Linked DNA regions of Homo sapiens: region 1 is linked to region 2. Evidence: fine-mapped expression QTL. A gene starts in region 2. The other region holds a variant in brackets. All regions are shown on one strand. Distances are from middle to middle.

What was found. PIP is the estimated chance that this variant, and not a neighbour inherited with it, causes the effect.
Region 1: its variant is fine-mapped to the expression of PSAP in esophagus mucosa (GTEx, PIP 0.91).

Annotation. Positions count from the first base shown.
Region 1 is chr10:71,791,974-71,799,973 of GRCh38, forward strand. It overlaps CDH23 (cadherin related 23), which reads left to right. Exons shown (of 70, transcript NM_022124.6): 48 at 1,209-1,667; 49 at 5,131-5,247; 50 at 6,381-6,605; 51 at 7,138-7,307; 52 at 7,519-7,656. Among named protein-coding and RNA genes, the nearest start is that of MIR7152, 5.2 kb to the left of the region's middle. The variant T/C (reference allele first, on the strand shown) is at 4,196.
Region 2 is chr10:71,846,821-71,861,551 of GRCh38, forward strand. PSAP (prosaposin) reads right to left here and starts at 4,431. Exons shown (of 14, transcript NM_002778.4): 1 at 4,362-4,431. The coding sequence starts at 4,401. RefSeq lists enhancers at 2,690-3,189, 3,581-4,111, 4,112-4,642, 13,694-13,838, 13,734-13,878 and 1 more, a silencer at 13,035-13,269 and cis regulatory regions at 13,418-14,437, 13,761-13,771, 13,801-13,811.

The DNA.
Region 1 (8,000 bases), 58 kb before region 2:
TATAACTTCTGGAAGAATAAGAAAATTTTGAAAAACATAAGTATAATAAGCCAGATTTGGCTTACCAGATTTTATAACATATTATAAAGCTACAGTATTTAAGGCCATGCAATATGGGCACAAGACTCCAGGACAAAGTAGCCCAGAAACAGATACTGGTAAATTAAAGAATAAAATATGATGTGATAAAGGAAGCAATGAGGCCAATGGGGAAGCTACTTATTCAGTGTGCAAAAACCTATTTAATCTAATCAATTACATCCAATTATTATAATCTGTATGTAATCTAATATAATAATAATGTAATATTTAGTGTAGATTCTCCCCCATGTCAGACACCAAAATAAAAACCAAAAGAAAATATTAAAAAGTAGAAAACACTAAACAATAAATGAAGAAAACTTAGGTGAATAACTCATTTCTGGGTAAGAAGGTTCTAAGCATAAAAGAAAAGAACTTAAGAGGAAAAATATTAAATTTCTATGCATGCTAATTTAAACCTTGTTACATCAAATAATTATAGCCAATATTGAAAGGCAAACAACAAACCAAAAAGTATATTTGTCTTGGTCCAGGCGAGGTGGCTCACGCCTGTAATCCCAGCAATTTGGGAGGCTGAGGCAGGTGGATCACTTGAGGTCTGGAGTTCCAGACCAGCCTGACATGGAGAAACCCTTTCTCTACTAAAAATACAAAAAATTAGCCAGGCATGGTAGTGGGTGCCTGTAATCCCAGCTACTCAGGAGTCTGCTGCATAAGAATCACTTGAACCTGGGAAGCAGAGGTTGCAGTAAGCCGAGATCACACCACTGCACTCCAGCCTAGGTGACAGTGTAAGACTCCATCTAAAAAAAAAAAAAAAAAAAAAAAAAAAAAAAAATATATATATATATATATATATATGTCTCAAGTTGTCATAATTATGTGACTTGTATAATTGACAGAAAAATGGACAAAAGACAAAAGCAGACCATTTGCAGAAGATACAACTAATTATTACATTATAAAATATTGTTTAATCAAAGAATATAAAATAAAATAACATGCCATTTTCCTATAAAATTGCAAGTATGAAAAAGGTATAAAAGAAAATGCTGTCAAGGCTGTCATGAGAAGGGGACTTGAGAAGATCACCAACAAATGTGTCTTGGTAGATCTTTCTGGAAGAGGCCACTGTGCGCAGCTACTCCCTTTTCCCTCTCCAACAGGATTCTCAGTCCTTCAAGTCACAGCCACAGATGAGGACAGTGGCCTCAATGGGGAGCTGGTCTACCGAATAGAAGCTGGGGCTCAGGACCGCTTCCTCATTCATCTGGTCACCGGGGTCATCCGTGTTGGTAATGCCACCATCGACAGAGAGGAGCAGGAGTCCTACAGGCTAACGGTGGTGGCCACCGACCGGGGCACCGTTCCTCTCTCGGGCACAGCCATTGTCACCATTCTGATCGATGACATCAATGACTCCCGCCCCGAGTTCCTCAACCCCATCCAGACAGTGAGCGTGCTGGAGTCGGCTGAGCCAGGCACTGTCATTGCCAATATCACGGCCATTGACCACGACCTCAACCCAAAGCTAGAGTACCACATTGTCGGCATTGTGGCCAAGGACGACACTGATCGCCTGGTGCCCAACCAGGAGGACGCCTTTGCTGTGAATATCAACACAGGTACAAGGGCCTGCACCCCTCCCACCTCCCTCCCAGCTCCCAGTCCTGTCTCCTCGCTCCCTGCTTCCCCCTTCTTTCTCCTTTCTCTTTCTTTGCTGTTCCCTTGCTACTCTCTTCTCTCCCCCTCCTCTGGAGGGAAACCAGAACCGTCCTTCTCTTTTCCATCTCTCCCCTTGCTTTCTTTCTCTGCTTCCTCATCCTCCCTTGAGCAGCTCCTCTGGCCTTCCTGATTCCCTCGCCCTACCAGTGTATGAGAGCACCTATCTCACCACATCATGCCAGTATTAAATATGATAACATTTTCATGTTGGCAATTTTAGAGGAAAGTAATACCTTGTTTGTTCTTTTGTTTTTTGTTTTTGTTTTGGCTTTTTTTTTGAGATGGAATTTCACTCTTGTCACCTAGGCTGGAGTGCAATGGTGCAATCTCGGCTCACTGCAACCCCTGCCTCCTGGGTTCAAGTGATTCTCCTGCCTCAGCCTCCCGAGTAGCTGAGATTACAGACATGTGCCACCACACCCAGCTAATTTTTGTATTTTTAGTAGAGACATGGTTTCACCATGTTGGCCAGGCTGGTCTTGATCATCCTGACCTCAGGTGATCCACCTGCCTCGGCCTCCCAAGTGCTGGGATTACAGGCGTGAGTCACTGCACCCAGCCGTGATACCTTGTTTAATATGCATTTCTTTACTAACTAGGTGGCTGAACACTTTCTTCATATGTATGCTGGCCATTTAAATCCTCTGCAAGTTGCATGCGATCAATGATTTTCTTACACTATCACGAAACCAAGAGAACCATGGCTTATCTTTCACAATGTATGTAGTTTATTGTAATGCTGATGGTTTTATCATTTTCCCAAAAGTTCAGTGTTTTTCTCCTTTGAGGAGTTAGGAAAGGGACATGGAGCTGATACGTGTACTTCTTGGAAGGCCCAGAGGAATGATAGAAGAATCAACATGGCTGTGACAAAGCACTAAAACAGCAGTAAGATATCAGTTTTTCACACGTGATTAGTGGACATTAGGATGCTGGACAATGTTGATATTGGTGACCGTGTGGGGACATGGAAACCCTCATGCACTGCTGTAGGAGTTGTGACTGATTCCACTGTCTGGATAGCAATCCAGCATAAGGGACACTTGTACCACCATTACCCAGTATATGTTCCAGAGAAAGTCTCAGGGCATTAATGAAACTGTCTGAGGATGCTCACTGCAGTGTTATTGGTGATGGTGGAGTTGGGGCCATGCAGGTATCCATTTCTGGGAGACTGAAGAGTAAAATATCATGGGTGTGCATCATGGGGGTACCAGCCAGCAGTGCCAGCGGTGAGAAGCAATAAATTAGACACACACAGAGCAATGTAGATGGATCCTAATAATAAGTATTTACTGAAAAGGATAATAAATGGGATGAGATATATGCCACAGCACCATTTCCATAAATGTAAAATACATACAAAATAATACATGATTTTCAGAAATACTTTTATTAACAAAAAATATACTTCAATACATTACAATGACTGCCTGAGGGGAGAAGGGAAGGAGAGATGAGTATGGGAATGAAAGGGAGTAGACGCACACATAAAACAAGAGAAGTGCCAGTGGTCATAGTGTGCAGCGAGCCAAAGAACATGATAAACTCAATCTGCATTTGAGGCCCAAAGGGAAACAGAAGAAGGAAAAACCATGAGCACTAGGAGAAGTTAGATAGAACCAGCTACATCCCAGGTTAGCAAAATTCCTGGCTGCATGGGTTGGTCAGGACCATGGAGAGCTGCTCCACGTCCCTACTCAACTTGAGGCTCTGCTCAATCCCCTACTGCTTTTCTCTTTCCTGTTCCCCCTTCCTCCAGCTGACTCTCTTCTCTATTTTTCTTTCCAGTGTCTTCTCTGCCCCCTCCTCCTCAGCCCTCCACTCCTCCCTTGCCCACTTTGCTACCTTTTCTTCTTGCCAGAGCCTCAGCCCCTGAGCTCTCCACTCCAAATGGGCTTCCACTTGCTCCCCTGGTTTCCTTCCCAGTGCCTCTTCCCCTCCCCACTCCCTGTTTCCACCCCTCCCTCCCTCCTCCCACCCCGTCAGCTCTGAGTCCCCACCATCCTCCCTGCCCTGCTCTGCTCCATCCCTGCTGCACCCTGAACTAACTGATGTTAACCCTCTTCTCTCTTCCTCATGGCTGGCAGGCCCACAGGTTTGAGCTCTGTTTCTCTGTCACTTCCCACCTCATCTCTTCTCTGCCTCACCCCATTGCCTTCCTCCATGCCCACCACACCCCCACCACCCTTCCTGTCCTGTGGGGCCTGGGCCAAGGCCGTGGCCCAGCCTTTGCAGACTGAATGCAGCCGCCCTCTCCCCATCCTCGCTCCCCAGCCTGGGGGACAGGGAGCGAGAGTAGGAAGAGGAGGAGGAGGAGGAGGAGGAGGCGGCCCAGGGTAAGTGACTACCCCATGGCTGGGGACCCACGGAAGACAGAAGCCCAGCAGGGGGATCTGCCAAGGGGGAAGGGAATCTCAGATACCCC[T/C]GTACCTGAGAGGGAGAGGAGGTCTCACTCTGGGATGAAGCCAATGGGAGGAGAAGCCACCAGGCCCTCTAACAGGCAGGAACAAGAAAGGTCCCAAGAAACGCAGCACTGAGGTCAGCCAAACTAGGTCTGTCCAGTCCCCGCCCATGCTTCTGGGGGGTTCCTCTCTGATTTGGGGAGCAGGCAGGGACTCTGGGAGGCAGTGGGTAGAACAGAAGGAAACCCCTTGCTAGGACTGCCATGGAACCAATGCTCCTGTCCCACAATCAGCCCATGTCACTCCCTATTTAATCAAGACAAAGGGATGGGCCTGAAGTATCCAGACGGTCCCACCACTGTCCCCTCCAGGGAACCCCTCAGGGCTTTTCAGCTACCATGACTTTCCTTTAAACTTGATCTCCCTAGAATCTAAGCATTTTTTAAATGGTGATAAAATACACATAACGAAATTTACCATTTTAGCCACTTTTTAATTGTAGAGTCCAGTAGTGTTAAGTACATTTGCATTGTTAAGGAATACAGCAGTTTTTAAACAAGCAGTTACATAGCTTCTGTGTGCCACGCACTGTTCTAAGTACTTTACAAATGGAAACTCATTTTGTTTTTCTAATCCTCAAAATAGTAGGGTATTGAGAAAAGGATGGGTTGACAGTCGGTAGTGTAATTATCTAGTTTTACAAATGTGGACACAGAGGTGCAGAGAGGTGACATAACTTCCCCAACATCACCTGCTTAGTAAGCATCATGGGAGGGGCAGAGCCACGTGACCCAAGCTTATGAGGAGGCTGTGGGCCCACCCCAGCCACAAGTCCCAGATTCTACTGGGGACCGTCATCCTTTGTGGGGATTGGGAGGGTTTGGCCAGGAGCACCCCTGGGAAGGGCAGATTTTAGGGGGTTCTTCTCAGGCTGAACCTGGCCTGGTCTGGTCCACAGGATCTGTAATGGTGAAGTCCCCCATGAATCGGGAGCTGGTTGCCACCTATGAGGTCACTCTCTCAGTGATTGACAATGCCAGCGACCTACCAGAGCGCTCTGTCAGTGTGCCAAATGGTAAGGTTCCCTGCAGACATCTCTCATTGGTCACTCAGAGCCAATCAGGGCAGGGGGCAGGTGGGGAACAGGCACTGGTCTGTCCCCAGGGAGGGAGCAACAAGACCCAGTTGCTCTGGGGGCCAGGAGTCAGGCAACACAAGAGGCATGAAAGGTGGCAGCCACCGTGAGGCCCAGGGTGGTGATGGCTACATAGAGCTCAGCAGTGGAGGATCCAGAAGCTCAGAATTGTGTGTGATCTGAACCCCCAGGCTGAGAGTAGGAAGGAGGCTTGGTAGAGCCTGGAACAGATTGAGAAAAAATGGTTAGACAGAGGCTTAGGTTCAGCCAGCAGAACTGGTAACCAGGGTGTGGGTAGGATGTGAGATGGGAACCCTATGATCTTATAGGAAGCCACAGGGTTAGCACAAAGGAAGCAAAGAATGAGGGGAGGTAACCTGAGGCCACAGACACTGCTTTGGGGGTGCAGGCACTTACGGTGGAGAACGGAGGGGCCCAGTGTTACCTTCTGCCAATCGGGCCCAGGCCATCCTGCCTGCAGCCTGAGGCGTGGGCTGGGAGGGGGCTGCCAGAGGGGTGGATTTTGTGTGGGCAGAGCGAGAGTTGAGTGGGGGAAGTGGGGATGGGGTGGCCTCAAGTTGCCTCAGCCATGAGGTACAGACAGCTGCTATAGGGGAAGCCAGGCCTGGCAGATGATGACTGCTTATCTTCACAGCCCAGAAGCCCACATTTTCCGGAAGGAAGGGCAGACTTGGTCATCTCTTCCATGTCAGAGGCTCAGATGGTTAAGGGCCCAGGCCGGTTACATAGAGGGGATACATACAGCTCAGACAGGATCTAGGGTCTTAAAGATTATCTTGCCCTTTCTCATTGAGCAGTTTAGGAAACCGGGGCACAGGAAGGGCCGAGGGCTCCACCAGGGTCACCTAGCCCTTCCTCTTATGGAACAGCAAGTGAGCACACCACTGGAAAGCCTCCTGTGCTGCAGCCTGAGGGTCAGGTCAATCCTCAGGCAGCCTCTGGGGGGCTGTGGGATGCTGCCATGCTCACCCGGCTTGGCTGAGGCTAAGGAAGGCCTGGCCCAGCCACACTAGTGTCCTTCCCCTCTCCCTCACTCCCTGCCTCCACCACAGCCAAGCTGACTGTCAACGTCCTGGACGTCAATGACAATACGCCCCAGTTCAAGCCCTTTGGGATCACCTACTACATGGAGCGGATCCTGGAGGGGGCCACCCCTGGGACCACACTCATTGCTGTGGCAGCCGTGGACCCTGACAAGGGCCTTAATGGGCTGGTCACCTACACCCTGCTGGACCTGGTGCCCCCAGGGTATGTCCAGCTGGAGGACTCCTCGGCAGGTAGGTTAGAAATCTGTCAGAGGAGGGCTGGGGGACATATATCTCTGCTTGCTTAGTCCCCAAGAGAGACCACAGCCCCTCTGTGGCTCCTCAGTGGACTGGGCCAGATCCAAGATGGCCAGCATTCCATGCCAGATTCCAGATGCCCAAACCAGGGGAAGGGACAGAGTGCTTACTCCTGGGTTGGGATGGAAGCCTCTTGATGTCTGCCGGAAACCTGGGATACCCCACCACCCAAGCTCCTACTATTAGTACCACCGAGGGAGCAGGAAGGCCAAGAAGGAGGTGTCTCAGGTCCTGGGCTAGTTGATGCTCATTCCTGTGACTGGGAGAAGCTTTTTCACCCTCCATAAGAAAAACTGGACACCAGTCCCTCCCTGCCGTGTGCCCTGCAACTGGGTGGTGCTGCCTGACCACCCTCCTTCAAGTGACCACAGCTGCCCCTCGGAGTCCAGGTCTTTCTCCTCATACTTTGGAGAGCTGCCATGAATGAGGAGTGGCCAAAATGGCAGTGGGAGCCTCTGTGTCTTAGGGAAGGTCATTGCCAACCGGACAGTGGACTACGAGGAGGTGCACTGGCTCAACTTTACCGTGAGGGCCTCAGACAACGGGTCCCCGCCCCGGGCAGCTGAGATCCCTGTCTACCTGGAAATCGTGGACATCAATGACAACAACCCCATCTTTGACCAGCCCTCCTACCAGGTGGGTGGCCAGGCCACAGGCTGGGTCCAGGACCTGCGCCCATTCCTTGGGGTCTTTGGGCATCTTCCTCTCCCACCCTGCCAGCCTCTAAGCCCCCTGGGAGTGCCCAGCCCACGAGCAGCTTGATGCCTGCATCAGTGAGTTCTAGGGCTGTGCTCGGGCTCTGGGACTGACCTTGGCCTACTCTCTCTCCCTGCCCCCTGGGCTCCAGGAGGCTGTCTTTGAGGATGTGCCTGTGGGCACAATCATCCTGACAGTCACTGCCACTGATGCTGACTCAGGCAACTTTGCACTCATTGAGTACAGCCTTGGAGATGGAGAGAGCAAGTTTGCCATCAACCCCACCACGGTGAGCAGTGATGGAGGGCCTGGAATTTGGAAGTGGGAAGGACCCAGGGTCAGAGACTGAGCAGCCACCAAAAGTATTGTAGTAATCCCTCTGGGTCTTGTCGCCTGGACATCTGCATCCCCAGAGGTTCTTTAGCCAAGTCAGCAAACCCTGTTCTCAGAGTCCCAGACATTTGGTAGACTGTGGCCTTTCTGTCTCAACAGATGTTTAAGGAAGTGGCCAAGTCTTTTGGAATGAGCCCTTTGTGGGACAACATCTGAGATGTGTCCTCTCCACACTAAAAAAGCATGATTGAAGTCCATGGGGCTTCTTTTTGAGACAGTCAGAAAAGAAGCAGGGGAAGC
Region 2 (14,731 bases):
CTCCTTCCTGGTGGCAGAACCAAAAAGGAGCCAGAAAGCAAGGCTTACAGCCTGGTAGCCAGTAACCTAGAATCTCTGCTAGAAGCTGCCTCCAAAGCTGCCATGCACACCTGTCTAAGTGGCTTTGGTCTTGGCCTTGAGAACTTCCTAAGCATGCCTCATTAGGTGCTGTTCCCAGCCAGCAACACCCCGCCCTACCCTTCCACTTCCCCACAGCTGCCTGGACATCCCATGGTCTCACTCACCAAGAAAATGGAAGACCAAGTTCTCCTTTCCCTCATCTACAAAATGCCACACCAATCAATCCAACACACTTCAACTCTCATAGTTTGTTCTCAAAACAACCTGTCAGGGCCGGGTGCGGTGGCTCACACCTGTAATCCCAGCACTTTGGGAGGCCGAGGCAGGCGGATTACTTGAGGTCAGGAGTTCAAGACCAGCCTGGCCAACATGGTGAAACCCCATCTCTACTAAAATACAAAAAATTACCTCCCATTTACCCGAGTGTTCAGGGAAGAGGGTCCTTTGGTCAACTAAATATTGTGGTTAACCATAAGCCCATATATACCAGAGGTGGATTTTATAGGCATGGTGGTGGGCACCTATAATCCTAGCTACTCGGGAGGCAGAGGTGGGAAAATCGCTTGAACCCGGAAGGCGGAAGTGGCAGTGAGCCGAGATCGCGCCACTGCACACCAGCCTGGGGACAGAGCAAGACTCCCATCTCAATAACAACCTGTCAGGCTTCTCCCTTTCGGATGCCTCTCTCTCACAAGAGAGAGCTGCTCTCCTTTCTCCTTTCTTCTGCCTATTAAACTTTCTGCTCCAAAAAAAAAAAAAAGAAACAAAACAACCTGTCAAATGTACTTCAAGGACTTGACAAATCACTGATTTGTTAAAACAAACCCTTCTTTCTTCAGGAATTATACTCTTATTTTCACAGAATAAAACTGATTTACTATTAATAAACAGGAGATTTATCCAAAATCCCTGACAGGCCAAGACCTGAAGTTCCTACTGATATTCAGCAGGCCAGGCTATAAATTCACATGTTATTGAAAGAATATATATAACACCTTCTAGCATCCCCAGAAAACATAACTGTCTTAGCGTGGTGTAGACAACATTCAGCAGGCTAGCCACCACACAGCTGACAGCTATCAGGGCATCTAAGCTTCAGGGAGCACCTGCCACATCCCAGGCACCATCCCTCATGCCTTACACCTAGCTGATGAACACGCTCCTTTTTCCACCAGAGGACTCACCTAACAGCAATACCCTCCATGATCCCATTTGTAAAAGATCGAAACTGCAGCCTTCACATCTATGGTGTTCAAAGGTTAACAATGTTTCCTTCGGGGCAAGTGGGACAGGGCAGTGAATGGGTGAACAGGGGCCTCTGGATGCTACTGCACTGCTCCCCAACCTCGGGGGCTGCTCACTTTGTGGTAATTCATCAAGTTGTCTACTTAATCGTCCACGTATGTAACTTACACTAAGTTTTTAAAAGTTAAGAGGTCCATGTGGACAGAGGGATATGGAAAAAGCGAGCACTGTGGAGTCTTGGGTTCTGGTCCTGGCATCCCCAGTAAATGGTCTATGATTTGGGAGAGTCACCTCTGGGCACCTCCAGGTCTTCATTCCTTACAAAGGGGTCAGATTACATGCTCTCCAATTCTCTCATGGTGCCATGGCTTTGCTTTCGCTTTTAGGTGGGGAAAAAGGAGGGGCAGCTGGATGGGCAGAAAAGTAACTCAAAAGCAAGTGTCTCTACCACCAGGACATCACTGAAACACAAAATACAAAGCCCATCCCGATTCAGGGTGGCATTCTGTACTACGACAGTGTCACGAAGAAAGTTCTAAGTGCCTCTCGGGCAGCAGACAATGGCTGCAGTCACCAGGCACTTTCACTAACAAAACTCATTATCATGTCTAGAAATTTTAGGAGTAACATTTTCACAATATCACAAAGGGGCCAGAGCTGTGAAGGCCAGGGAGCATTCAAACACTGTTATCAGCACTGACTTTGGCCTAATCCTAAAGGTAGGACAGCAAAGTTAAACCAAGGCCATTACAATACCTCCCATTTACCCGAGTGTTCACGGAAGAGGGTCCCTTGGTTAACTAAATATTGTGGTTAACCATAAGCCCATATATACCAGAGGTGGATTTTATATTTCCCGAGACACGATTGAGTCCCTTTTGGGTGATGTGAATGAATCAGAACTCTTAAGGGTCTTGTGAGGAGTGACTCAACGTCAACAAGAACAATGGATAATGTAAAAAGAAAGAAAAAAAATTGCCCTGAATCAGTATAAAAAATTTAGAGACCAGCATTAGTTTATTATACAGACCATGGAATAACTGCAGTATAAGCTTGAGTATAAAATCAAAATGATTTTTTTATAAGCAGATCATCTTTCATTGTGTACAAGTAAAACAAATTTAAGAGCTTCGTATAGGGTCAAGATACATTCTTGAGAGCTGCTGAAAGCTAACTCATTTCTTCGGTTTTGCATCAACCCTGTCATCCACTTTGTTACTTTTTATTAAAATTTGGGTAGCTAGGTTAAAAATGGCAGCCAGCCCTTAAACTACATATAGTTACTAAAAAACAGACATTGTGGTGGGGGCTGGGTGCGGTGTCTCACGCCTGTAATCCCAGAACTTTGGGAGGCTGAGGCGGGAGAATGGCTTGAACCCGGAAGGCGGAGGTTGCAGTTAGCCGAGACTACGCCATTGCACCACTCCGGCCTGGGCAACAACAGCGAAACTCCGTCTCAAAAAACAAACAAACAAACAAAACAAACAAACAAAAAAAAAACGGCCAATAGCGTGCAAGACTTTCTTTTCTCTTTTTCTTTTTTTCACAGGTGGGGTCTTGCTATGTTGCCCAGGCTGGTCTCCAACTCCTAGGCTCAAGCGATCCTCCCACCTCGGTGTCCCAATGTGCTGGGATTACAGGCATAAGCCACCGCACCCAGATGCAAGACATTTCAAAGCAAGTGAAATGAGGACCCCATGGCAAAATAACTGGACCAGAAAACCCTATATCGCCTTCAATACCTATGAGAATTAAGCTCCGATTTTTTTTAGCTTGCCCAAATTCCTATCTAAGGGGTGTAGGAATCATACCCTACAAACCATAAACTCTCATCAGATGGGTTTTATTTGACCCCATATATCGTGACTTACTTTCCAATCTGACTCTGGCATAACATTTTATAAGACAAGGAAAAAAAAATCAAAATATCTAACCCCAAAATATATTTCCTTGCCATACCTTGAAATTGCCCTGCAAAGTCTCTTGTGGGAAAAATCCACATTCTATAGAGAATCCCCTTTCCCCTATGTTTTCCTTCCTTCCTCTCCAGATCCAGGAGATAATCAACTAAGAGCCAGTCACCCTTTCATTTCCATAGAAATATTTTACAACGTGCTCGCTCTCTTAGTCGGCTACCTGAGAGCTTCCTCTGCACAATAAAACTTGGTCTCCACAATCCTTTATCTTAACTTGAATACTTTCTTTCTATTGATTCTAGGTTTTCAGATAAACTCAACCAATTATCAACTAGAAAATGTTTAAATTTACCTATGGCCTGGAAGCCCCCCGCCGCTTTGAGTTGTTTCGCCCTTCTGAACCAAACCAACGTATTTCTTAAATGTATTTGATTGATGTCTCGTGCCTCCCGAAAATATGTAAAACCCAGCTGTATCCCAACCACCTTAGGCACATGTTCTCAGGACCTCCTGAGGGCTGTGTCACGGGCCATGGTCACTCATATTTGCCTCAGAATAAATCTCAAAATATTTTTACAGAGTTTGACTCGTTTTGTCAACACCTAGAATCCAGAGTAAATACATATGCAAACGTCAATATAGATGATACACATGTGCTTCCTGCAGCTTCGCTACCCTTACAAACAGGCAACTGAAGCCAACGGCCAAAGTGTCCTGCGGGACGGGGCTCCAGCCCACCTCGATCACGTGCGCCCAGCACAGGCACAACACAGCTGCCCAAGGGGTCACCCTACAAGACTCACCCACCCCCACAGTGGGAAGCGCAGCCTGAGGGAAGGCCTCGGGGCCCCAGCCGCGCAGGAACCCACTCGAGCCCCGAAGGAGATGCTGCCCAGGGCCTGGGCCGTCCTCCCGGGGGCATTTTCGCAGCCCGCCCCCCGCAGCCCCCAGCCGCCCAGAGAAAGCCAGAGAAAGCCAGCGAACGCGCCTGCGCAGTGCGCGCGCCCCCTTGCCAACTAGGGCAGGGGGAGCAGAGGGGCCAGGCCCGGCACAGCCCATTCTGGGGCAGATGGACGCTGCGAGGCACCTCCTCCCCAGGATGAGGGTCCCAGGGCTTACCCGCGCCCAGGAGGCTGGCCAGGAGGAAGAGGGCGTACATAGCGCCGTCTGACTCCGCAGTCTGCAATGCGGAGCGTCAGCTGATCCCCCGCAGATATAAATCTGCCCTGCCCCAAAGCCGTCCAGAGCGCAGGCGCTAACCCCGCCCCATCCGGGCCTGCCCGAGCTCAACAGCGCCCTGACTCAGCGCCTCTGAGGGCGCCTGCGCGAAGGGGAGGCCAATAGGAGGGGGCAATGGGAGGGGCGAAAGGAAGGGCTATGGGGAGGAGTGAGGAAGAACTTGGAGAAAGGGAAGGGAAAGGTCATAAAAGAAAAGCCCTACTAATTGAATAGGTCAGAGATTATATATGTAAAATACCTTTTAAATCTCCACATTGTTGGCCGGCCGCGGTGGCTGACGCCTGTAATCCCAACACTTGGGAGGCCGAGGCGGGCGGAGGGTTCAAGACTAGCCTGGGCAACGTGGTGAAACCCCATCTCTACAAAAAAAAAAATACAAAAAAATTAGCCCATTGTAGTAGCGGGTTTCACATAGAATAGCTTGGGGTTTCACATAGAATAAGTAGTCGTGTAACAGGGTACAGGGCTCAGTCCTGGCCAGGGGCACGTGGGGGCAGGTGGTGGCACCTGGTCAAAGGCAAGTCTGGGCTGGGCATGCTGGCTCACTCCTGTAATCCTAACACTTTGGGAGGCCGAGGCGGGCGGATCATGAGGTCAGGAGTTCAAGACCAGCCTGGCCAATATGGTGAAACCCTGTCTCTACTAAAAATACAAAAATTAGTCAGGCGTGGTGGCGCTCGCCTGTGGTTCCAGCTATTTCAGGAGGCAGAGGCAGGAAAATTGCTTAAACCCGGGAGGTGGAGGTTGCCGTGAGTCAAGATCGCACTACTGCACTGCAGCCTGGACCACAGAGCGAGAGAGATTCCCATCACCAAAAAAAAAAAAACAAAAAACTTTTAAGCCTCACATTGTGGTACCGTTAAAGATGTAATACCATTCCTCACCCATCATAAGAGATCATAAGAGTCACAACCAACACTCCTGTAACGAGACAGCTTAAGAGAAAAGCATAACAAATTTATGTAATCAACGTTTTATGTGACATGGAAGCCTTCAGAAATTAAGACCCAAAGACCCTCTGCCTGTGGCTGCCCCTGCCAGGACCTGAACAGAGAATGATGATGACCCTCTCCAGAAGGATAAGAACCTGCCAACCGCAAGGCAGGGAAAGGAGGGGAATCTTAGCCCCTTAGGGCAGGCACTTAGAGGTCATTTACCTGTAGGGACATTGAGCCTAGGAGAGGGCAAGACGTTTATCCAAGGTCACACAACAGGTAGAGATAGAACCTGGCCCGAAGCCAGGTTTCCTGACCCAGGAAGGGCAAACCTACAGTTCCTCCAACTTCCTCCAATCTGCAATCCGCTCTGGAGAACAACCCCAGGGACTAAGGCCTCAGAACCTTCAGTTCTGCTCCCCTGCAATCTCCCTAAGTGCCCCCAGCCCCCACCACAGCTCTGACTTCCTCTGGGGAGCCAGATGGGGAAGTGTGCCCCATGCACCACAGTGGGCCATGTGAGGCAGCTGAGTGAGTTGGGACAAGATGTGGTCTCAACTGGACGCCTCACAGGTCGGCCTCAGTGGCCAGATGGAGACTTCGTGGCTGCTCCACCTTTGGGCTTCCCAAGGCCAGGCAGAAGCGTGGGGCAGACCACACAACAACTGGTTAAAAGCAAGGGAGCTAGCCGGGCGCGGTGGCTCACGCCTGTAATCCCAGCACTTTGGGAGGCCGAGGCAGGCAGATCACGAGGTCAGGAGATCGAGACCATCCTGGCTAACAGGGTGAAACCCCGTCTCTACTAAAAATACAAAAAATTAGCCGCACGATGTGGCGGGCGCCTGTAGTCCCAGCTACTCGGGAGGCTGAGGCAGGAGAATGGCGTGAACCCGGGAGGCGGAGCTTGCAGTGAGCCGAGATCGTGCCACTGCACTCCAGCCTGGGCAACAACAGCGAAACTCCGTCTCAAAAAAAAAACAAACAAAAAAAGCAAGGGAGCTGGGGCTCTAGGACAAATCCCCCATCCTTCAGCTCCTTGCAGATGGAGGAGCAAAGCATCCCAGTGCTCCATGCAGAGGTTACAGGACCCCAAGCCAAAAGGACGCTCAGAGACCTCAGATCATCCCCTCTCATCTTATAGAGCTACTGACATCTCAGGGCTGGTTAACAACAGAGCCTGAACCAGGACTTGTTTTTTTTGTTTTGTTTTGTTTTGTTTTGTTTTGTTTTTTGTTTGGAGATGGAGGCTCACTCTATCACCCAGGCTGGAGTGCAATGGTGCGATCTCAGCTCACTGCCACTTCTACCTCCCAGGTTCAAGCAATTCTCCTGCCTCAGCCTCCAGAGTAGCTGGGATAACAGGTGCACGCCACCACACCTGGCTAGTTTTCTTGTATTTTTTGGTAGAGACAGGATTTCACCATGTTGACCAGGCTGGTCTCAAACTCTGACCTGAAGTGATCTGCCTGCCTTGGCCTCCCAAAGTGCTGGGATTACAGGTGTGAGCCACCACACCCCTCCTTTTTTTTTTTTTTAAATATTCCTCCTTCATACCTAGAGGAATATGTCAGTGTTTTTGAGAGAAACTTTTGCTGCCTTTCATCTCCTCACCTGTAACTCAACAGTAATATGCTGCTTCATCCGCCTCGTCCTGAACCCCATGAGGACAGAATTTTAACAAAGAATATAAAAGCAATAAGTAGATTATTATTAATTTTTTTACCTTGTCAGTAGACGCTTAAATCCTCTTAAAAAAAAAAAAAAAAAACCTTCTGAACCATCTGCGTGTAGGCAACAAGAGCTGTGAAGCTCCTCAAACCCTCTGGCTCTCTTATGCCTTTCCTAGCTATGTACCCTCAGGGAAATACTCCAGAAGTGAAGGAATATTTTGTCCGAAGTGTTCACAGAAGGGCCCTTTAGAAACATGGAAGCTGGAAAGATCCCAAGTGCTGAACAATGAAGAGATGACTGTGGAAACTGGCTGGACAGAGCAACGGTACTGAAGCAGCTTTGAAACAGGAGGAGGAGGGAGCAAGGGCTAGGCTGCAGCAAGTCTTCCAGGAACGTGGGTCCCAAGAAACATGGGCAGAGTGAGAGGCCAAACCCCATCTGCTAGTAAGCCCTGCTGCTGACTTCCCAGAGAGGATGGCAGAACTGGTGGAGAGCTTCTAGATCCTGGATCCCATCGGGCGCAGTGGCTCACACCTGTAATCCCAGCAATTTGGGAGGTCGAGGCGGGCAGACCACTTGAGGTCAGGAGATCGAGACCAGCCTGGCCAACATGGTGAAACCCCATCTCTACTAAAAATACAAAAATTAGCTGGGTGTATTGGCATGCGCCTGTAATCCTAGCTACCTGGGAGGCTAAGGTATGAGAATCGCTTGAACCCAGGAGGCAGAGGTTGCAGTGAGCTGAGATCGCACCATTGCACTGTAGCCTGGATGACAGAGCGAGACTCTCTCAAAAAAAAAAAAAACCCCAAAAACAAACAAAAAAAGATCCTGCAGCCTGCCGCACCCCAAAGAGAGGATGCACGGGCAGCCATGGCCCTCCACCCTGTCCCTCTCCCTCCCACAAGTGCAGGATTTCAGCCAGGAGGGGAACAGAGAATTGGAAGTAGGGGGGAAATTCTGACTTTGGATTAACTCATCTTGCATTATTTCACTCATGGAAATGTCCACATTGCAATTTTTAAAAAACAAAATTAATATAGGAAATTTTAAAAGAGAAAAGAAAATCCCTTCCACTACCACCCTCTGGGAGCTCAAGTCTTCAAGGAACTGAAAAGATATTTTTCCTTAGAAATGTGAGCCACGCTTAAGGTTTCTCAATGGCCTTCCAGTTCTGGATCTCAGTTCTGCATGAGGCCCCAATTTTCATGTCTGAGATCTCTTGAAATCCCCACCTGTCAGACCCTTTTAATAATTTTCCAGCCGGGCATGGTGGCTCATGCCTGTAATCCCAGCACTTTGGGAGGCCAAGGTGAGAGGATCACTTGAGCCCAGGAGTTGGAGACTATCCTGGGCAACATGACGAAACCCTGTCTTTACAAAAAAATGCAAAAATTAGCCAGGTGTGGCGACACAGGTCTGTGATCCCAGCTACTCCAGAGGCTATGGGACGGGAGGACGGCTTGAGCCCAAGAGGTTGAGGCTGCAGTGGTGCACCTCTGCTTGTCAGCCGGGGCAACGGAGCAAGACCCCATCTCAAATAATAATAATGATGTTCCCTGTGGCCCCAGATGGCCTCCATCTGTTACTTTTTCTACAACTGAAAGTTCCGGCCAAGACAGCCAAGGAGATAAGACATATCTACCATTGAGGCCCAGCCCACCTGCTTGGCCCCAAGGCTCCACTCCAGTGCCCTAAACAGCAACCCTGGAGCCCCCTAATGCCCTGGAAGCCTCCCTTGACCCCTCACCCTGTCTCAAACAATGACAGGTTCTCTCCCTCCAGCATCTTCCTACTCGAGACCTCTGGCTTCAGACCCTCTAGCCTGCACTTGTCCTTGTGCCTGGAATGAGACCTCAGGTGTCACTCAAGGCAGGCTCAGGCTGTCCCAGGGACACCTCTCCCATCACCCACCAATTCCCAACCTCTGACTTCTCCTCCTATACCCCCACCTCCCCTGGACTGATGGAGCACTCAACAGTGCAGCCAAGCTCACCAAGCCCTCTGTGCTTCTCAGCACCTATTTAGCCTCCCCTGTGGCAGAGTCTGCTACACCCTCTAATATCATTCACCCCCTTCTCCTTGATTTGATAGTTACTAATGAGACCCCTTATTTCTAGCAGGGCACATGGCCACCTAAAATAAAAGCTACACATTCCAACCTCCCTTGCAGCCACGGGACTTCACTGTGGCCAATGAGATTTAAAAAAACAAGTGCCCAATTTGTGACTTCTAGGTACTGCTTTTTAAAAGAAGGCATATATCCAGTGCAAATATTCAAATATTTAACAACTAGTACTGCCAGGACACTGGCCATAGTGCTGGGGGAATGTCCTAGAAGGCCCCAACTGAGCCAGGCTGCTGTCTTGGAGGGGTGGATGGTTCCTGGGGATGACCCGGCAGCGGGGGTGGGCAGCAGGAGGCTAGCAGGTGTTACCAACTGGTACGAAGTCCTTCATAATTTATTTATTTTTATTTTATTTTATTTTTATTTATTTATTTATTTTTATTTTGAGATGGAGTCTTGCTCTGTCGCTCAGACTGGAGTGCAGTGGTGCCATCTTGGCTCACTGCAACCTCTGCCTCCTGGGTTCAAGCAATTCTCCTGCCTCAGCCTCCTGAGTAGCTGGGACTACAGACCTGCGCCACTATGCCCGGCTAATTTTTGTGTTTTTAGTAGAGATGGTGTTTCACCATGTTCGCCAGGCTGGTGTTGAACTCCTGACCTCAGGTGATCTGCCCACCTCGGCCTCCCAAAGTGCTGGATTACACCAACCCTGCTCTTTATAATTTAATTACTGGTACAGTTCTACTGATATGTATCAGCTAAATATCAGCCCTGGCTACAATCTCCTTTCTTCGGCCCGCTGCCTGGATTGCAGACATAATGGCAGGAGCTCAAGCATCCATCCTGGACCATGAGGTAGAAGCCTCTTTAAGGATGACAAAGCAACAAGAGAGGAGCCTGCCTCCCTGATGATTGTACCTGCTCTAGGCTGTCCCTTGCGGGCTTTATTTATGTAAACAAACTCCTATCTTTATTAAGTTTTTGTTATCTTCAGTTTTCTGCTTCATTCCTAATCTTGTTAACAATGCTCAAGCCCCTATGTAATTTTTAATTTATTTCACACCCATTTACTGTTTTACTCCTTCCCTTTCTCTAAGAAGATGTCCTTCCTCTTCTTTGCAAGGCTTTGTGTATTTTCCTCCCCTTTGCAAGTTTAGCCACTAAACACTACTATGCTTTTGCTGATCAGCTCCTGTGACTTTTAGGACAGGACTGATATTCTGTCTATTTTGGTTGTTTAATGCCTGCGTCCTTCACTTTGTTGAATTAATTATTTCCTAACTGCTATATCACCAGGAATCATCGGTGAATATTTTTAATATCACCGCTCTGGTACTTTGCTTTGTCAATTGTTCTTTCTTTATTTTCTCTCTCTTTTTTTTTTTTTTTTTTTTTTTTTTTTTGTGATGGAGCCTTGCTCTGTCCCCCAGGCTGGAGTGCAGCGGTGTGATCTCAGCTCATTGCAACCTCCGTCCCCTGGGTTCAAATGATTCTCTTGCCTCAGCCTCCTTTGTAGCTGGGGCTACAGGCGTGTGCCACCACACCTGTCTAGTTTTTGTATTTTTAGTAGAGGCAGGATTTCGCCATGTTCACCGGGCTGGTCTCAAACTCCTGACCTTAAGTGATCCACCTGCCTCTGCCTCCCACAGTGCTGGGATTACAGGTGTGAGCCATTGCGTCCAGCCCCCTTCTTTTTTTTTTTTTTTTTTTGAGATGGAGTCTCACTCTGTCACCCAGGCTGGAGTGAAGTGGTATGATCTTGGCTCACTACAACCTCCGTCTCCTGGGTTCAAGCGATTGTCCCACCTCAATCTCCCAGGTAGCTGGGATTACAGGCACACACTACCACACCTGGCTAATTTTTGTATTTTTAGTAGAGACGGGGTTTTGCCATGTTGGCCAGGCTTGTCTCGAACTCCTGATCTCAGGCGATCTGCCCGCCTCAGCCTCCCAAAGTGCTGGGATTATAGGTTTGAGCCATGGTGCCCAGCCCCTTTCCTTTTTTATATCTTCTGTCTCCCTCTGTACACTGACTTTTCCCTGTCAGACTATAAGTATGCCCAAGGCTCTCCCATCCTAAAAGAAATCTTTCTTCACCTTGACTTTCACATAAGCCACTGTGCTTTCTCTCACCTTCCCTTCAGTGCCATACTCAGTATGGCATATACACTCACCATAACTACTACTATCCCTCCCAACTATAATCCAGCCCACTGATCCCCCAAATGGCTTCTGGAAAGTAGACAGTCAATTCCTTCTTGGTAAGTCCACCAGCACCTTCTGTTCCCTTTCACCTCTGGCACTGTTGGTTTGCTTCTCCTTTCTACAAGTCCTCCTCTCCCGCCCCCGCCTTTGGCATCAGTGACAGGGTGCCACTCCACAGGGATGCTGAATATGCACCACACACGTCCCCACTGCCTGCTTCCTCATTCATGGCAGACATCACCAATAGACCTTGCCTCCTGAAGCCTTGTCAACTCGGTACTCCTCTGCTTTCAAAGTTGGCTCTTGGGTTAACATATTTGCTGTCTGTCTCAGATGGGGTTGCCTGGGAACCACAGTCTAAGGCTGAGATGAGCAGGCAGGAGTTTATTGGGGTATGTTCTCAGGATCACACCTGTGAGGCCGTGAGGGCAGCAAGATAGGGGAAACCAAACTGCGACAAGGTTGTTACATTGGCCTCAGCCCATACCGCGCTGCAGGGACGGTGCTGCAGAACGGCTGTCAACTGGGGTAAGGGGTGTGGGCCTTTAAAGCCCAAGATAATATGTCCCAGGGGAGGGAGTGTAAGCTTGGGTGAGGGGCTCCGTTGGCTGAGGGGAATTCCTGGAGATGGCACAATTGTGAGCCCTCAGCAGACGAGCCCATGGTGGAGAGACAGTGGGTGGCTTGGTCCTGAAAGAAGAAGCTATATAGTGAATTCCACCACCATACTCTGCTTGCTCTCAGTCATCCTTCTACTTCTCTGACCATTTCTTTTGCTTTTTTTTTTTTTAAGATGGAGTTTTGCTCTTGTTGCCCAGGTTGGAGTGCAGTGGCACGATCTCGGCTCACCGCAACCTCCACCTTCCAGGTTCAAGCGATTCTCCTGCCTCAGCCTCCTGAGGAGCTGGGATTACAGGCATGCACCACCACACCCAGCTAATTTTGTATTTTTAGTAGAGAGGGTGTTTCTCCATGTTGGTCAAGCTGGTCTCGAACTCCTGACCTCAGGTGATCCACCTGCCTCAGCCCCTCAAAGTGCTGGGATTACAGGCGTGAGCCACTGCGCCAGGCCGCCATTTCTTTATAGCAAGCTTGTCCAACCCACGGCCTGCAGGTCACATGCAGCCCAGGACGGCTTTGAATGCAGCCCAACACACATTTATAAACTTTCTTAAAACATTATGAGATTTTTTGTGTGTGATTTTTTTTAAGCTCATCAGTTATCATTAATGTTAGTGTATTCTATATGTTGCCCAAGACAATTTTTCTTCTTCCAGTATGGCTCAGGGAAGCCACAGAATGGACACCCCTGCTTTACGGAACACAAGGCCTTGGTCCTAGCCCAGCTTTGCAATCTCTGTTCTCTCAAACTTCCGACCTTGCCCTCCATCCCATGGTTCCACCTACTCTGCCCACATTCTCTAAGATTGTCTAAATAAGCTATGCAGCTCCACATTTATGTGCCTTATAAATACCCCCATCCCCTACCTCGAATTCTATTCCCTGCCTCTTTCTCTGGTAAACTCTTATTCATCCTTCAAAATCCATTTAAGGCCAGGCACGGTGGATCATGCCTGTAATCCCAGCGCTTTGGAAGGCCAAGTCAGGTGGATGACTTGAGATCAGGAGTTCAAGACCAGCCTGGCCAACATGGTGAAACCCCGTCTCTACTAAAAATACAAAAAATTAGCTGGGCGTGGTGTCACGCGCCTGTAATCCCAGCTGCTTAGAAGGCTGAGGCGGGAGAATCGCTTGAACCTGGTGGGGGCGGGGAGGGGAGGTGGTATGGAGGTTGAGCTGAGATCATGCCACTATACTCCAGCCTGAGCGACAGAGTGAGACTCTATATCAGAAAAAGAAAAAAAAAAAAAAAAAAAAAACAGATACTGCCAGAGGGAAACCTTTGCTATTTGCTATGCTTTAGGAATTGGTGGACACTTCCTCCTCACTGCTCCCTCTGGGATCTGTTCACATCTCAACAGCATTTCTTATTTTGTCCTGTTATTTTTTTAGCAATACATTTATTGAGTGCCTGGTATATACCAGGCACTGTACCAAGGGCTGAAGACAGAGAAATGAAGCACGCAGGCTGAGTGGAAAGGCCACACAAGAGGCTCGTTGTTATGTCCCCACTCCGGGGAAGCCAGATTGCTGGCCGGGCCCACAGCTCCATCAGGGCTCCTTGTACACACGTCCCATTCGGCACCCTGAGGCCCTGTCACCCGCTGGGCTGTGGGTGATCAGATTCCCAGTCAGTCTATTCTGAGAGCCGATCAGTGCATGGGATGCGGCCTGGCCCCACAGCTCTGTCCCCAGATGTTATTCCTATTGGACAGGCGGCCCCCATCAGCTGCTCTCTTGGGGAGAGCAGGAGCTGCCAAGAAGGCCTTGCATGAGCTGGTGAGTCAGCAGCAGCAGGGCAGTGGGGCAGGCCGGGAGCTGCTGAGTCACTGTAGCAGTCTGCAAGTTGGTGAGGTCAGAGCCCCTAGAGAATCTGATGAAAGCTGGGAACACTCTGCCAGAAAAATGCTCAGACACATTTTGCACTGACTTCAGGAGGCTCTCAGGCCTCAGCCACCCATCTGTGGATGTCAGAAGGAGAACCTTAGTAAACCCAAAGAGGGGAAGTGACTTAACTGCTCACAACACCAATAAATAATAGAACTGAGATCAGAGCCAGTTCTCCTGAGTCACAGTCCTGTCAATTTATCAGATTATGTCCCTGTGCCAGGCATCTATCAAAGCCTCCCTTTATTTCAAGGCCCAGCTGCATTTCACCTCCTGGGAAGCCCCCCTGCTTCCTCTAGCCTCAGGCACCTTTCTCCTTCTCTAAATTTCAGATGATTTGCTGCTAGAGCCCTTACTCTTGGGTGAACTTGGAGGGTGAAAAGAACAAAGACTAGATTAGATCAGTTGTTTCTGAGCCTGAAAAGGAAAGCAAGAACTGGGCTGTAATCAAACTGACCATGTTAGCATATCTTAAAACCAAAGCTTCTTAGCTGGGCGTGGTGGTGTGGGCCTATAGTCCCAGCTACAGGAGGCTTAGGTGGGAGGATTGCTTGAGCTATGATTGACCCACTGCACGCCAGCCTGGGCAACAGAGCAAGACACTGTCTCAATAATAATACTAATAATAATAACTGGCATTAATTAGTTGCCTGTTAATATACCTGACTGTCAACTGATCACTCTATATACATAATCTCTCTTTTTTTTTTTTTTTTTTTGAGATGGAATCTTGCTCTGTTGCCCAGGCTGGAGTGTGGCGGCTCGATCTCAGCTCACTGCAATCTTTGCTGCCCAGGTTCAAGCAATTCACCTTCCTCAACCTCCTGAATAGCTGGGATTACAGGCGTGCACCACCATGCCCA